2 separate regions of the Homo sapiens genome follow, and region 2 is linked to region 1. Evidence: fine-mapped expression QTL. A gene starts in region 1. The other region holds a variant in brackets. All regions are shown on one strand. Distances are between the middles of the regions. Region 1 holds the start of FOSL2 (FOS like 2, AP-1 transcription factor subunit). Region 2 has its middle 40 kb from the start of PLB1.

Evidence for each region. PIP is the estimated chance that this variant, and not a neighbour inherited with it, causes the effect.
Region 2: its variant is fine-mapped to the expression of FOSL2 in whole blood (INTERVAL, PIP above 0.99).

Annotation. Positions count from the first base shown.
Region 1 is chr2:28,391,232-28,394,130 of GRCh38, reverse strand. It overlaps FOSL2 (FOS like 2, AP-1 transcription factor subunit), which reads right to left and starts at 1,273. Exons shown (of 4, transcript NM_005253.4): 1 at 309-1,273. The coding sequence starts at 410. All of the region lies in intron 1 of FOSL2-AS1 (FOSL2 antisense RNA 1), which reads left to right. RefSeq lists enhancers at 1-156, 312-1,243 and silencers at 274-450, 937-2,056.
Region 2 is chr2:28,454,184-28,457,082 of GRCh38, reverse strand. No RefSeq gene overlaps it. Among named protein-coding and RNA genes, the nearest start is that of PLB1, 40 kb to the left of the region's middle. The variant A/G (reference allele first, on the strand shown) is at 1,540.

The DNA.
Region 1 (2,899 bases):
TGGGGAGGGGGAGTAGTTCTTGGAAGGAGGTAACAGGCTCCTGGTAGGGGGCCTACAATTCCAGGAGTCTATCTGGGTAAAATATAACGTGAGAGGAAAAGGGCATGTTGTCTCTTCAAGCCCACTCTCCAATCCCCTAGTTTAAAAGGGGGTGGGGGGGAAGGGGAGGACGAAAATCCAGAACTTACAACGGTGGCCCGTAGGTATTTTCTCGCCAAGAAAAAGAAAAGAAAGCAAAAGAGGCAGTGGCGGCGAGAAGAGGGCAGGGGTCCGCCCGCGCCGCCAGGTGCACCGGGGCCCGCACCTACCTGCTGGCCGCCGCCGCCGCTGGAGTAGGACTCGGCGTGCGCAGGAGAGCCGCTGCTGCCCCGGGACGAGGTGTCAAAGTTCCCGGGATAATCCTGGTACATGATCCGCGGTGGGGGCCGGAGAGGAAACAGGGTGTTTTTCTTCCCCCGCCCTCGCCGCGGCCGCGCACCGGCTGCTGCGCGCTCGTTCGTCCGCCGGCCGCGCCGCGGGCTCTGGGCTTCGCTCCTGGGTTTCTCCCCCACCGCGGAGGGCGAGGACAGGGAGGCGGCGACACCTCAGGAACAGCGTCCCCCGAGCGTCCCTTACAGCACTTCTTTCCGGCTCTGCGAGCGCCGCGGGACCAGTTGTCCACCCGATCCCTCCCTCTAAAAAGTCGGCGCGTCTCTCGGTCCCTCCCCTGCGCGCGCCCTCCCGCCCCCGCGCGCAGCCGGAGCTCAGCGGGGACCCACGGCCCAATCAAAAATTGGAAATTAAAAAAAAGATTAGGAGCCCAGCGAGCCTGGCCTGCCAGCCCTGGGGACCCCCGATTTCAGACAGGGCCAAAAAGGCGGAAAGAAAAGCTGTCCGCTGGGAGAAACTTCTGTTTCTTCCTTTTAGAAAAGGAGCCGGAGAATAAACTTCCCGTGGCCGACTCGCCGCCCGAGTTTCGGGGCGGCTCGGATACTTGACTAGGAGAAGGCGGCGTGCGCCCGTCCCGCGGCCCCGAGCGCGCCAGGGGGACAGCGGCTCGTGGGGCTCAAGTAGAGCTGGCGCTGAGAGGGACGCGGCCCCGCTCCCCGCTCCGGCGCCCAGACCCGCACCCCTTCCCCGGAGCCCGCTCCCGGACGGGCCCGCCTCGCCCGGCCGCGCCTCTCCCTCTCTCTCTCTCTCTCTCTCCCTCTTTCTGTCCCCGCCGAGCGCCGCTCGTTCGCTCGCTCGCTGGTTCGCTCGGAGCCCTAGCGCTCTGCCCGAGATGAGTCACTACAATGGCACGAGTTCAACTCACACTCTTTATTCTCCAGCCCTGTACCATGTGGATTCACTCACGTCAACCCCAGACTCCACCTTGCAGGGAGGAGCGCACGAGGAGGCGGGGGGAGGAGGCCGCGGAGGAGGAAGAGGCGCGGGAGGGGAGGAGGCGGGCGCAGCTCTCCCCTCCCAGCCCCGGCTCCCGGCCGCGCTGACGCCAACCGCGCACCCCGCGCGAGGAAGCCAGGCGGTGGCACGGGCGGGAGCGGGCGCCACGCACGGTTCGGAGGCGCCGAGGCAGCCCCGGCCCTCCCCAGTCCCCCGCTCACCCCCCGGGCCCAGCGCCCTTGGTCTGTTCCATTGGCGCACGTTGCCAAAGATGGTCATTTGCGTTAGAGGACGCGAGTGCGGGTTTCCTCGCTTTCGGGTGACGTGGAGGGAGAGGGATTCCCTCGCCCGCTCCCGAGTGCGCTGCGGCCTCTCCCCCGCCCTGGGAAGGGGCTCGGGGCGGGGCCCCGAGAGCGGCCGCGCGGGTCTCGCCTCCGGATTTTAGAAAATAATCACAGCCCTGACGGCGAGACGGGCGGTTCGGTGCGGCGCCACCGGGAGGCCGGGAGCCGGGCGCGCAGAGCCGCTCGCAGGGAGGGCGCGGCTGCGCGCGGTCGTAGGCGCCCTCCGCGGCGCCGCCGAGTGCAGCGGGCGCCCCGGGCGCGCAGGGTGCCCGCGCCGCCCTGCGGCCGGGTGTTGGCGGGGCACGGCGCCGGGCGGGGCTGGCCTGCCTATTTTTCCCTCCGTGGCGGTCTGCCTACCGGTTCCCTTTTTGTTTTTTGTTTTTCATGTTTTCGGTCCTACAGTTAATTCGTTAGGAGTAGCCTTGAAGATGAAATTAACCAGTCAAGACATTCCGGCCGCCCTATACGCCGGGCAATTAGGACGCATCTAATAAGAGTAATCGGGCGTTTATAAGCAAACTCCAGACTGTTACGAATTAAAAAAAAAAAAAAAAAGCCAGCGAGAGGGTGTGCCCCAACGTTGTCGTCTTCAGCTGTTTTGGAGCGAAGTTCAGGGCGCGGGTTGCCGGACATTTGGGTCCTCCTCCCTCGCTGGGCGGGGCTGGGAGGGGCGCGGCGCAGGGTACAGAGCACAGACCTTAGAGCAGGAACGCCCGGCTACGCTATTTACGAGCTGTGAGATCTTGGACGAATTCCTTAACCTCTCTGGGCCTCAGTTTCCTCCTATAAAGTGAAGGAGTTTGGAGACATGACCTTAGGCCCTTCTCTGCTCTGGAGCTCCAATCCTTCCGCTGAGATGATGGTGTGTGTGAATGGAGAAGTACTGTAGCGGAAGTCAGGGAACTTAGGTTTTGGTCCAGGGTCTGTGTTAGCCTCAGTTTACCCAATTCTTAAGTAGCGCCAGCCATCTGTACCCCACAGGGTCCTTATGAGGACCCAATGTTAAGAGGTGTTGAGAGTCCATTGCTGACAACTCGCTGTGCACCGTCACACAACTTCTGTCCTCAGTTTCCTTATCTGCAAAGTGGGGGTGTTGGTAGCAGAGAAAAATAGAGCCGGGAACGCGAAGCTTTCCTGGGGCTCTATATAAAGCGCTGGCATTTCCGGGACGGCTGGCGGCATCTGGCCGC
Region 2 (2,899 bases), 63 kb before region 1:
AAAAAATCAGATCTCATGAGACTTACTACCATAAGGAAAGTATGAGAGAAAGCGCCCCCATGATTCAATGATCTCCCACCGGGTCCCTCCCACAACACGTGGGAGTTACAGGCGTATCATTCAAGATGAGATTTGGGTGGGGACACAGAGCCAAACCATATCAAGCCCCTACATCCAGAAAATGCAAATTTCATTCAACGCTAAAAAGAAATGTGCTGCCAAGCCATGAAAAGACATGGAGAAAACTTAAATGTATATTATTAAGTGGAAGAAGCCAGTATGAACAGGGTGCATACTGTATGATTCCAACTATATGACACTCTGGGAAAGGCAAGACTACGGAGACAGCAAAAAGACCAGTGGGTGCCAGGGGTTGTGGGGAGGGAGGGATGAACAGGCGGAGCACAGAGGATTTTTAGGGCCGTGAAACTACTCTAAGATGCTGTGACAGTGGATAAAGTCATCACACTTCGGTTAGAACTCATAGGACATCAACACCAAGAGTGAACCCCAATGTAAATATAGACTTTGGGTGATGATGCATCCATGTGGGTTCTTGATTTAATGAATGTACTACACATGTAGGGGCAGGGGTATATGGGGACTCTCTATACTTTGTTTTCAAATTTGCTATGAACCTAAAAAATAAAGTCTATTAGAAAACAAAACAAAAGGATCCCCAGATGCCCTGAGCTCTGTTTTACAAGGAGGGCCACCTGGCTCCTCAGGCCACAGCTCAGAAACCCCTGCTCTCCCTAGGAGGACTCACAGCCACATTTTCTCCTTTGCCTTTTAAGTGAGCTGTAGGGAATCCTTTGAGTCTCTTATCTGGGTCACCATTTAGGATAACTTCCACCGGAAGTGTCCTCTGCTTGGTTCCTTGACTTCAGTGTCACCTCCCCGGAGGCCTTCCCCAACTACCCCATTCCTAAGTCACTGTCCCTCCCATTATCTTGTATGATTTTCCGCCTAGCACTCATCATGTCTGAAATGAGCTCACCTGTTTACATATTTATTTTAAGTCACCCCTTTAGAGAATGCAAGCTCCACTAAGGCACTGACTGTGCCCCAGTGCCCAAAGCAGTGGCTGGCACAAAATAGGGGCTCAGCAAATATTTGTTGACTAAGTTATTTTGTTACTGAGCAGCAGCATAACCTAGGGCAAGGCAGTTAAACTTTTCTGGGCCCCAATTTCCTCATCTGTAAAATGGGCAACTACTCTTAATGATTGTGCTCCCTTTTCACGACAATGCTCTGAGTGTTGTCTCAACATGACCTTGTTTTGCCACGAAAGGACTTCTGCAGTGAAACAGGAGAGGTCCCCGATCCCCCTCAGGATGTGCCGCTTGCCTTTTCGGTCACCCCTGCTGCTCAAATCCCTCTCAGGAGGTGGAGCATGCAGATGGGAAGGTGCAGAGGCCAGGGTGAGCCATTTGGGCTCTGGCCCTACTGTAGTGTCTAAAGGTGGGTGCCTGCAACCCCAGTGTTACAAAGCTCTTTCAGCTTTGCTGTCCGCAGACAGCATGTGTTAACCAGCTC[A/G]ATGGACCCTCTGCCTTTTCGCAAGGGCAGAGGGCCAGTGTGACAGCTCTCTGTATCACAAGCTCTTATCCAGCATCCCGGAAAAACTGGGTCACACATGGGCTTGAAGGATGAATGCGAGGTTTTATTGAATGGTAGAGGTAGCTTTCAGTGGGACGGATGAGGAGCCAGAAGGGGGGTATGGAGTAGGAAGGTGATCTTCCCCTGGAGTCAGGAGCCCAGCAGCCGGACTCCTCTCTGACCGTCCCCAGTCAAACTCCTCTCCATGTTCAGATGTTCCTCCTCCTCTCTCTTTCTCTACTGCATCGTTCCACTGTCCGTCTGCTGGTCTGCTGGCTTGCTCGTCTGTTTCTGAAGCCTGGGGTTCAGGGTTTATATGGGTGCAGGATAGGGGGTGTGGCAGGCCAAAAGGCAACTTTTTCCGCTCAAAAACAGGAATGCCTGTCCTCATTTAGGGCCGTGGGTCTTCAGGCTTGAGGGTGGGGCCTTTGCCAGGAGCCACCCTCTTCTACCCAGTATTTCCCTGTCTCCTGTCCGTATCACCAGGCCATCTGGATGAGTACTTATGGAGAGAGTTCCTAGCAGCTTAGGATGTTGCTTCACCTTGCAGACTTGAGTTTGCAGATGCCAGAGAGAGGTTGGAATGTGTGCTAAGTAGATTGGGGTATGTGAAAGTCTCTCCCCTAGAAGGTCAGCCGTAAGGAGGCAGGGATCTTGTGTTTTATTGATTTTTATGGCCCAAGAGTCTAGAACAGTGCCTGGCACCAAGGAGGCTCAACGAATAGTTATGAAATGAGCACAGGAGGAATGCTGGACACGTCATTGACAGTCAGAACATGAACTTCCATTCTTGGGTGAGTGTCGTGTGGTATGGAAACAGCAATAATAATGCCTTCCATTAGTGGAGCCCTCTGTAAGGTGTTTACACACACATCATCTCATTTGATCCTCATGACAACCCCATGAGATAAGTACCATTAAGTGTTATTATCCCCAATTTACAGATGAGATAACTGCGGCTCAAAGAGTTCAACCTGCCTGAGGCCACATAGCTGGTAAATGGCAGAGCCTGATCTTGAACCCAGGATTTTCTCGCCCTAGACCCAATGCTCTTATCTGCCTGTGTGTTGCTGGTCATGCAAAGCTCTGAGTGTGAGCAGCAGCTGGAAGCCTCACATGAGAGCCAAGGCCCTGAGGAGAGCCACCGTGGAGCAGACAGAAGAGCTACCTGTGACTGAGCCCAGGCCTGCTGTGCACACGGAGGCTGCCAGAGCTCTCAGCAGCAGGGGCTGGGTGAGAAGCAGGAGAGGCGGGTGAGCTGGGCCAGGCCCCTCTCAGCTCCAACAGTGGCCAAGTGCCC